Linked DNA regions of Homo sapiens: region 2 is linked to region 1. A link means that fine-mapping ties the variant in region 1 to the expression of a gene that starts in the linked region. Tissue or cell type: tibial nerve. Region 1 holds a variant in brackets; the other region holds the start of a gene. All regions are shown on one strand. Distances are from middle to middle.

Region 1 (5,394 bases):
TATAAATATTGGTTTATTTGCCTGCTGTTTTCTAAATTCTTTCTTTGCAAAATAGGTGAGAATTTATTCATTTGAGAATTCTGAGATTTATATCATCTCAGAATTTATTCGAAATTTCTGGTTCTTTGCTTACAGAGCAGTGGCCATTTCTATTTCTGTCCACCAATGTCTCAGCTTGTTTCCAGTACCAAATTTAAAATATGGAACTAATTGAAGCCAGTTTAAAAAGGCAAAATCAACTTAGCTTTTGAGACAAACCCATAATTTTTCACCACTGTTTTCTCTGCCTGCCAAAATAAGCACTTTCTTAGGCAAATCTTATTTTCCTTTGAAAAATCCATAGGTGTAAATTTGCAAGCCGCTTTCAAACTTTTGCCTCATTAAGCCTAATGCTTTTTGGAATCACAGTAAACTATTTGCTTCAATAATTTATTTTGGGAACTAGTTACAGGCACTAATTCAGCTTTATGCAGAGAAGTATTTCTTTCTACCCATTCTTTATTTCTTGCTTTTTAATGTTATTATATGTTCTTCATGTGAAACACCAAACTTTTATTCTCCATACCACTGATTGATCTTGTAACAAAACAAGTGTGTGGTTGAAGGGACATACGCATACATAGATAGTATTTTGTAATGTTGATGTCCTATCAGAATATTAAGGAAACATGAAAATACCATAGTCTACGCAGTGTATTCATAAATTGGAAATCAGAGTTTGATTTGTAAGTTTATTTTGAATATGAAATAGAATTTTCATGACAATAATTTAAGAAACAGTGATTAGAATACAGTCATTTAAATTCAGCACATACCTATGAAGCACATACTATGTGTAATGCTCTGTGTCCTCTTTACTACTGGGGACACACTATCTGACTTCATGAACTGAACTTCATGTACCTATAAATAGTGATACTAATAACTAGCATTTTCTGAGAAGTTATGCTAAATATTATATGTTCAACATACATTATCTCATTTATCCCTCCCAGTGAAGAGGATACAGTTGTTACACTCATTTCATAAATTAGGAGCCAAGACTTATAGATATTTAGTGTCTTGCCTGAAGTCAGAAAACCAGAAAGAATCCTTATTTGAAACCAAGCCTGCCAGACCTTGAAATTCATGTTATTACTCAGTAGAGGTAAAGCCTATTTAAATGTCTTATGTTCTCACCTTTAAGTACCACTATTAGCTAGATGGATATTTGCAGGCTAAGTTGAGTGTTTAATTGTCATTTACAATATTGCATTCTTCAATAGTGTCCCACAGATTGTTGATATTATATCTGCCTCACGCTTCAAAAAGTTAGCAGGGGATCCTTCCAACTTCAGGTCCAAAATTGAGCCCTGTTGGCCTCACTACCAGCAGTGGTGGCAAAAGAAGGCATGCCAGGTGAAGGGAGTAGAAAGGTGTTAAGGTCTCACCCAAGGTTAATGCCTTTGGCCTGAGGGAAGTTTGCCCTCAGATATAAATTAATGAACAGAGTTTGGGCCCCCAGACATGGATTGGTTCACCCTCTTACTCTACGTGTACGTTCTTACGTTGATATTTTAAGAAAGAAATTGTCAATGGGAAGGAATTTTAGGGAAGAAACAGGTAAATAATGAAAGAAGAAAATAGAAATTTTAAAAGAATATAGTAGAAATCTCTTAAAAAAACAGCAAACTTTTTTTTTTAATCCTCTAAAAGTAGATGGATTTGTGTTATTTAGTAAGAAGACATTTTCACTGTAAGTGAAAATCTCAGGACTTTCTAATCTTAGATTCAAAGTGTTTAAAGATATTGATGGGATAGAGTTTAAGAGATTATATTATTATTCACACATATGTGATTGTGTGGTAAATGGGCTACTGGGGGAGAGGAGGGCTTTACATCTCCTTGCTGGAATATTCATGGCTTGCGTAGGCTGGAAGAGTTGATGATGCCTGCATGCATTTTCATAGGGTGGAACAAATCTGAATGTTTTCCTGTTGGGGGGGTGGTTCATGGGCTAATCTGTGAAAACTTTTATTTATCTCTGTATTATACAAACCCGTGATTCTGTCATTAGAATTGTCTGAATAATTACCAAGCATAAAAGCTGCATCATGATTAAAACATGAAATACAGAGGATGTTTATCAGAAAATT[T/A]TCCAGATCTCTTTGAACTTTTACTTTCATGAGAGTAGATGTTTTTTGAGATTACCTCATGGGGAAGGCGTAACTGCCTAATCATAATAAAAGTCTTCCTTCCTATGTTTATAAAACTGACAGATGTGGTTTCCAGAAAGTCAGATAATTTAGAAGTCGAGAAAAAGACAAAACTAAATGGTAAGTTTGTAAAATATCTTAAATGATTCCAAATTCATTTTTCCTTTAGATCAATGTCTAAGTTTGGAGTAGTTGTAGACATTTTTCAATAAAATGATTTGTGTTAATCTAATACAATTTATCTGAAGGAAAAGGTCAAGAAATAAGAACATTTTTAAAATAAGGTATCTGGTGAAAGTAAATACTGAAAACTCTGAGACTACATGTTAGATTTGTCTCTTGAAAATTGTTTCAGATAGCTTAAAACTCATGAGATTATAATGCTGAATCTTTTAGATTATTCTTGCACGCGTATTTTTTACAAGTGAGGAATTTCAAACAAGAGAAATTATGACTCCGATGATAGAATTTGGCAAAACTTTTACTATAAGCCAGTCTTTTCAAATCTGTTTGTTGTTCTTTCTATGAAATCTTTTTTGACTCTCTGATTATTCGATATAATTGTCCTTAAAATAAAAAAAAAAACCGTCTGGTTTTACTCTTCATTTACAAGAGATATCAATAGTGAAAATTTAAAGTAAATGATTTGTTTTTTTAAATTTATTAATAAACTGATGATGTAGCTATGCAATTCTATGCTTATTTTTAATATATTTGAGGACACAGAGTTTTACTAGATGACAAAAAAGGCTAGTCTAGTGTGGATGGGTCTGCCTATATACTCTATTTCTATTTTATTCATTGTGCAGCACTGATGAAAAAGAGAAGGTCTAATTTTCTGGGTTCCAGTGACCCTCTGATGAACACCGGGTGCTGGAGGTTTCTTCTAAAAGATAGCAAGTTTAAAATCTGAACTGGTGAAAAGTAATTCATAATAATGCTTACTTAATCGGGAAATAAAAAGAGGGACTAGAGTATCTAAATGCAGATGAAAGACCTTAGCTCTGCTCTGTATTTCTGTGGGTTAACCTCACAGTGGTTAAGAGAGTGGTTTAGAAACAACCAATTTGCTGAGCAATCCTGCTGACCAGTTCTCAACGGAAGACCTGGGGGAGTACTCTGTTGCTCTCCAGAGCTCTCTCTGTAAGGCCCTCTCCTCTCTTGTACTCTGCCCTGACATTGCTAGCTGCCTTGGCCTCCTTGACATTTCATTCAGCTCCTGTCTTTCTCTCTAAATCTAGGCTAGCATTGGGTATAGAAAGATGATCAGAGACTGGGAAGAGCTCATGTATTGGTTAAGAGAAATCTGATGCAGTAATGTGGTCAGGCATATATTTGTAATATTTTATAGAGTAAAAACTCAATGCTGTTATATTTTATTGTTACAACATAAGCAAATCAAACTGTCCAACTCTCTACCTTTCTCCTGTTGCTTATTAGAGTTGTTAAGTTTAGAAAGTAATGGATAGGTTGAGCTTCACATTTTTTTGTCTCCTATAAACTCCCACCGCAGTAATATAGTTTTTATTGATTACATACACACATATTTTTCCTACTTTTCACACTAGTTAATTATTGTGCAGACCACAAAGGTGAGAGTTCTAGTGAAACATGCGCTATCTCTTTCCTTGGATTTATGTAAACAAATACAAACATGAAAGTAAATTTGACACAGCTTCTGCTTCTCCCCTGCAGTGGCTTTGTGTGTTTTCATGCCAATTGTCAACATCCATTTTTCTTATCGCAACACTTTTCCTCTCCTTAATTCAGTTTTTATGTAGAAATTTGCCCAAGAAATAACCTAGTTAACCTCAACTTCTGTTTCAGCATACTTTGACATTTGTTGGCTAGAAAATTCTTTTTTTTTTTTTTTTTTTTTTGGCTTTTTCAGCAGTAAGAGGTGTGTCTGCATTTAGAAAAATATGTTCAATTATATAACTTATTTTGAAATTAACCATTGAAAAATTCACAGGGAGGCAATAATGATTTAGATGGTTTTGATTCATATATTTATTTCTCATTCAAAAAATAACTGGAACCTTCATAGTAAGAGGGGGGCATGATGCTTGAGAACACTACCTCTGTTTCTCTAAATCTACAAAATAAACCCAAATAAATAAAAATGAGAATAGATAAAAGAGAATGCAATAAGTCCTATCTTTTAAAAAGTCATAGGCAAAGGAAGAGAAAAAAGGAACCTTTAAAATAACATAGCGATTTCATCAGCTTTCAATTTCCTCTGTATGCCAAATATATTGATATGTTAAGAAAAAAAGTTTAAGAGACAATATCATAAAAAAACCCCTCCATTACCACCCCGCTCAAAATAATAGAATGAGCCCAGAGGCAGAGTTCTTAACATGAATCTCAGGAAGTCTTTGCTTGGCCCATAAAGTGCTAGGTGGCCTGACCTCTAGACACATCTCTGTTTCTCTCGTATCTCATCCCCTTAATTCACCCGGGTCTGTTTTCTTTGTCCTTAATTTCCTGAACATGCGCAAACCCTAGAGTCTCTTCTGAAGCTTGGTCATGTGACTGAAACGTTTTTATACAGCCTTCACATGATTAGCTTGTTTTATTATTGTTTAGATCACTCTAAAAGTGATTGCTATGCAAACCTTCATGATATGAATGAATAGCAGCATTCATTTTAATTACAAAATCAGATAGGGCTTGCCCTCTTTAGAGTTAGTGATGGGTTAGGCACTAACTAGGAGTACTTCTAGCTTGGGGATGTGCAGGTATGTTTCTGTTTCTTAATGGGAGTGTGAGTAATGTTTCCTTCCTAGATCTAGACATTGGTTTTTGAAGGTGCTTAGTTTGTGAAATGTATTAGGCAATAAAATTATATTCTGTATACTTTTCTGTATATACTTCAACAAAAGGTAGCAAAATACACACAGTTACAAATCTTATCTCATGTTATCAGACACTGTATAACCACAAGCAAGTGGTACTTAAACATGTTTATTTGGATTTTGTTTCGTTTTGTTTTTTCTGATCCCATTACTTTGTGTTTAGCCTCACATAATATCTCCATCCACTTCTGGAATTTTAAATGCTAAGAACTGAAGGCCATCTTCTAATTCTTTGGACTTAGACCAGGCCAAGTCTTGGACATGAAATGTTTCATTCTTTCACCAAATAATTCTCACTCACGCCAACCCCACTAAAATAAATAGCTACAAGTTTTCATCTT
Region 2 (5,394 bases), 30 kb before region 1:
CCTGAAGTGATATAAAGTGCCTGCATTATAATGAAAATGAACTTGAGCAAACCTTGCATTTGGATGTGGATTTTTCCTATGGATCAGGATTTTTGAGTACCTGGAAGAGAAAAGGAGCATTATTTGTTATAATACTTTAACAACTATTTCAGTACTGCTTGTTAGACAATTTTTAGGAAGACTACACATAACTTTTTAGGAGATATGTGGAAAAAACAGATGTTGACCAGTATTACTGTGGTACATAGGTGGAATGCAATTGCTCTTTGATACAAAGCTCTACAAAAAAAAAAAAAAAAGGTTTTTTTAAATTATAGATTTTCCTAGTTAACCTGTAACTGTGTTTTTTTTCTTAGAGAGATAAAGTGATGGAAAAGAAGGATGAATAGTCTGCCCAGGACTCATAATGTTGGTATTTCTTTTTTATAGTTAATTCACAAAGGTGGTTATCACTGGTAACTCTTTGTGGAAAATTCTCCATTCTTTTTTCTTTAGAAGTAAAAAGGGACTGTTTCATATTTTATCCAAATTACAACCAAATTGGTGAGGAAAATGTGAGTCAAAGTATTTTCTAAGTCATAAATATTTTTGAATGTTTTTGCTACTAAAGTTTCACTATAACAAATCTCAAAGAAATAAAATATACTAATAGGACATTTATGCTCTTCAAGGAAGTTCTGATGGGAGCATTTAAGTCTGGCCCCAACCTGGGGACTACCTGCTTACTTATTGTCCCCGAGGTTATAGTCATACCCTGAGGTCAGTGGCTTCAATCTTTCTGTAGTTGCTGGTCAGCTGTGGGACAGAACTGAATCCACCTCACATTCTATGTTGGGTACAGCTGAAATTTAGTGAGTTCAGCTGGGCACAAAGCTGAGTAATTTTCAAATAGAATAAAGCAAAGCTGTAATCTATATCTTTTTCTTAAACACCCTCTGTACCTACCCATTAGTAATAAATTTGGCTGGGTGGTTAGAGTTTGGGATGTAGAAGTGACTCTAATATTTAAGAGATGAGTCTGCTAGTTTACTCTTTTTTAAAATAATTTTTGAATTTTGAAACTTAATTTCTAAATAACACTCTCTAAAGAATCTAGATCAAAAATTGTTATTTCATCAGGAGCATTAACTAAATAAACACTGTTAATAATAGCATTGAAAATTATTACACACCTATTGGCTCAAGCTTATGGCTTTTGGTAGAAGAAATAGCAGACCATAATTCAGATTTCATTCATTCATTCCCATCAAGAGGAAAGGGTTTGCCGATCTAAATTTGAGCAGGTTGGTGAAGTATGCATATGTCTTTACAAACTTATTTCATAGTTTCATTTAACAAATCTTCAGGTTCAATTTCACCCTCAATACATGCCTTATAGAGATAGATATCACAATTATTAGATGAATTTATGATTTTAGGGTTTGCATCATACCCATATATTCACAAGTTTATAAATTCTGTTTTTAAAACCATCAGATCTTGTGAGACTTACTATCATGAGAACAGCACAAGAAAGACCTGCCGCCATGATTCAGTTACCTCCCACCGGGTCCCTCCCACAACATGTGGGAATTCAAGATGAGATTTCGGTGGGGACACAGCCAAACTATATCAAGAGTTTAACTGACAACTGCAATCATCCCAGACACCTGACCCCACTTGCCTGTACCTTTCCTCGGAGGTCCAATAAAAATGCCTGAAGCTCAGTGTTCCATTTAGGGTTCCACTTTCTCACCAGGATGTCTGTACAAGAGATGCATAGTCTTACGGGAGAGTAAAGTATATATCTTTAAACAATTTGTTTACTATGATATTCTACTAAGTGCATTTATTATCTTGCTTTCTCTCCTACCAGCAAAGGAAAAAAAATCATCTTAAGTAAATTTTTATAGATGATACTATCCCAAATTCTTCAACAAATGTTTTCCTGTATAATTTTTAAAAGGTTTGTTAAATGATAATGCCTTACTGATAGATTGTTGTATAGAAACTTTACTGGAAGGGATTCAGGAATACTGAAGAATGGAAGAAATCACAGAGAAGTCCAGCTTCTGATTCACCTTTGTGGGTGATATGGTTAGGCTTTCATCTTGAACTGTAATCCCCATGTATCAAGGAAGGAACCTGATGGGAGGTGATTGGATCCTGGGGGTGGTTCCCCTATGCTGTTCTCTTGATAGTGAGTTCTCAGGAGAACTGATGGTTTTAAAAGTGGCTCTTCCTTCTTCACTCTGTCTCTCTCCTGCCACTATTTAAGATGTGACTTGCTTCCCCTTAGCCTTCTGCCATGATTGGAAGTTTCCTGAAGCCTCCCAGCCATGCGGAACTGTGAGTCAATTAAACCTCTTGATGTGGTTTGGCTGTGTCCCCACCGAAATCTCATCTTGAATTCCCACGTGTTGTGGGAGGGACGCGGTGGGAGGGTCTTTCCTATGCTGTTCCTAAGCTCACAAAATCTGATGGCTTTATAAACAGGAGTTTGCCTGCACAAGCTCTTTTTTTCTTTCTGGCCGCTGTCCACGTAAGATGTGACTTGCTCCTCTTTGCCTTCTGCCATGATTGTGAAGCTTCCTAAGCCACGTGGAACTGTGAGTTCTCCATTAAACTTCTTTCCTTTGTAAAGTGCCTAGTCTGGGTTATGTCTTTATCAGCAGCGTGAAAACGGACAAATACACCTCTTTTCTTTATAAATTGCCCAGTCTCAGGTAGTATCTTTGTAGCAGTGTGAGAACAGACTAATACAGTGGGCATGTTCTGCTCCATACAATCTGACACTTGATTATAAAGTAATTGTTCGCTGTACGTTCTTTTATCTCAGAATAACCTGTTTTCTAATTAGTGCTTTATAGAGTGTTATAAAGTGTTATAAAGTGTTACAGAGTGTTACTTTAGCCTTTGCTTGCTGCAAAAGAAAAATTGGGCCAGAAATTGGCTATATATCTATCGGATCTCCCTCCCTCCCTTTCTATCTCCCTTTCTCTCTCTGACGAATCTAATCTGTGAACGATGGCATTTGAAAGCAAAGCAAAATGCAAAATACGCAAAAATAAAAGTTCTCTGGTGTTAGAAGACAGAAGAATCTTTTGAAAATTTAATTAAAAATTAAATTACCAGGCCTCTTCCTTAGAAATTCTGATGTGGTAAGTCTGAGCTGGTATCCAGGAATTTCCACTAAATAAGCTTCCTTGTAATTCCATTGCAGGTGATTCTTCTACTCATGTTAAAAACACTGGCTTAGGGAATCTGTATTAGGGATTATTCTGGTTGGCAGAATTTACCTATTTTCTAGCTATTCTACTGATATTTCCAGAACTGGTGGTCTATGATAAAGCATTTGAAACTTAAGTATTCGATTCTGGCTATTTGAAACTCACATTTTTCCCAGAAGGGCATTATTGTCCTATTATGAACCCAACAGCCATTCCTGCTTTCCTTTTTATTGACTTTTGCTTGACCTACTCAGAAATAACTATTATTTGGGTCCAGCGAGGCCCCAGGCTGTTACATATTTAGCACTTCTTTCTCCAACTCTAAGCCATCCAGCTTGGCTTAGCTATATAAAAAGCTCTTTCTCACAGCGGTGTTTCTGCCTGGTTGTTTATTTAGTGCATATCAGTTCACTGTTGCTTGCTGAATTGTTTCTTTTTGCTTGGCAGAGATGTTAAGTTCCCTGCTCCTATTGCTACATATTATCTGCAGCTTTCAGCCAAAATTATTAAGCAGATTTTGTTTAGTGAAGCTACATTTATTTAAAACAATTTTCTTTACCTGCAATCATTTGACTTTTTCATGATGTTCCTGCCTGATTTGCTTGAGATTTTTAATGATAATTCACCAAATAGTATACGGGAAGGTGGTTTATAAAATCATGTAGGTATTTGAATGGTTCAAAGGATTTTACTGTTCCTTCCACCCCAACATGTACCTCTTTTCATTGTAATTTGCTTGTGTGTGTGTGTGTGTGTGTGCGTGTGTGTTTTCATCCCTTCTCAGTTCTTGAAAAAGAAGTTGTGCCACATAATTAGTGGCCATTTAAGTCAGAGGTAATTTTTGGTTTACAGTAGCCATATGTCCTGATGGCACAGTTATTTCAAATACATTATTCAATTTTCTTCATGAATGTATTCATAGTTAATATGAGCGAGTCCTGAATTACGGGTGAGGGTTTATTTTCACCATTGCTCAATTTCAACAATTTGTGTTAATTCTACCTTCTAAACATCTCATGTATTCTCTCCTTTCCGTCCCAGTTGTCACTGCCTTAGTAAGCTGTCACTGTATTCTGCGGTGGACCATTAGGGGCCTGAACCTGAACTTCTATTTGCCCTCTGGATTACTCTGTTTAAATTCTTCCACTACACTTGAGTGATCCTGGACAATCTGCCTTCTCATGCCTCTGTGTCAGTGGTCCCCAACCTTTTTGGCACCAGTGACTGGGTTTGTAGAAGACAATTTTTCCATAGACTGGGGTGGGGGGAAATTGTTTCAGGATGATTCAAGTGCATTACATTTGTTGAGCACTTTATTTCTATTACATTGTAATATATAGTGAAATAATTATGCAATTCACCGTGAAGTAGAATCAGTGGGAGCCCTGAACTTGTTTTCCTGCAATCAGATGGTCACATCCGGGGGTGATGGGAGATAGTGACAGATCATCAGGCACTAGATTCTCATAAGGAGCTCGCAACCTAGCTCCCTCACATGTGCACTTCAAATAGGGTTTGTATTTGCTCTTAATAGAATCCAGTGCTGCTGCTGATCTGACAGGAGTTAGAGCTCAGGAGGTAATGCCAGTGATGGAGAGTGGCTGTAAATATAGATGAAGCTTTGTCCACTTGCTAGCCGCTCACCTCCTGATGTGAAGCCCAGTTCTCAACAGGCCTCAGACTGATACCCGTCTGTGGCCCAGGGGTTGGAGCCCCTACTGTATGTGTTTGCCTGTGACCTTCCCTGGCCTGAAGTTCACAGCCCAGCTGACCCACTGGCAATTCCTAAGCATTATTTAAGAAAGTTAGTGTAAAACTCTTCTCAGTAGCTTCAAAACTCCTCTCTGTCTCAAGTGGGCCACTTGAGTCCTTGTTCTCATCTATCTCCTGTGTCCTCTTTTGTTGCAGAAGTTGTGACGTGTCATGGAAAATATTGTTTTCTTCATCTGTTTCTTTGGAAAATTGATGTCATTTTGCTCATTAAAAATCTTTTGCCTAGCCAAGTATCTTGCAGGAAATAGATGTTGATTTAAGAAATAAGTATTTACATGTGATAAAGAAGAAAGAATATAATAAATTGACGTTTGTGTTCATTGGCCTCCATTATTTTTAATGTAAGCCCTATTTCACTTGCCAAATTTTTGAGTCTGCAGGAAAGTTATTTCCCTGTCTGTTATAAAGATTT

Which allele goes with the higher level. Positions count from the first base shown, and alleles are read on the strand shown. Sizes are in standard deviations (SD) of each study's normalised expression.
For the expression in tibial nerve of the gene that starts at base 2,281 in region 2, allele T in region 1 goes with a higher level than allele A (moderate effect, 0.64 SD a copy in GTEx).

The links. PIP is the estimated chance that this variant, and not a neighbour inherited with it, causes the effect. A credible set is the group of variants that fine-mapping cannot tell apart.
Region 2: it holds the start of LINC02147, and the variant in region 1 is the best candidate, but not a certain one, in a credible set for the expression of LINC02147 in tibial nerve (GTEx, PIP 0.71).

What each region holds. Positions count from the first base shown.
Region 1 is chr5:117,758,098-117,763,491 of GRCh38, forward strand. The region is part of intron 1 of LINC02147 (long intergenic non-protein coding RNA 2147); the gene reads left to right. Among named protein-coding and RNA genes, the nearest start is that of LINC02147, 30 kb to the left of the region's middle. The variant T/A (reference allele first, on the strand shown) is at 2,136.
Region 2 is chr5:117,728,081-117,733,474 of GRCh38, forward strand. It overlaps LINC02147 (long intergenic non-protein coding RNA 2147), which reads left to right and starts at 2,281. Exons shown (of 3, transcript NR_104997.1): 1 at 2,281-2,328.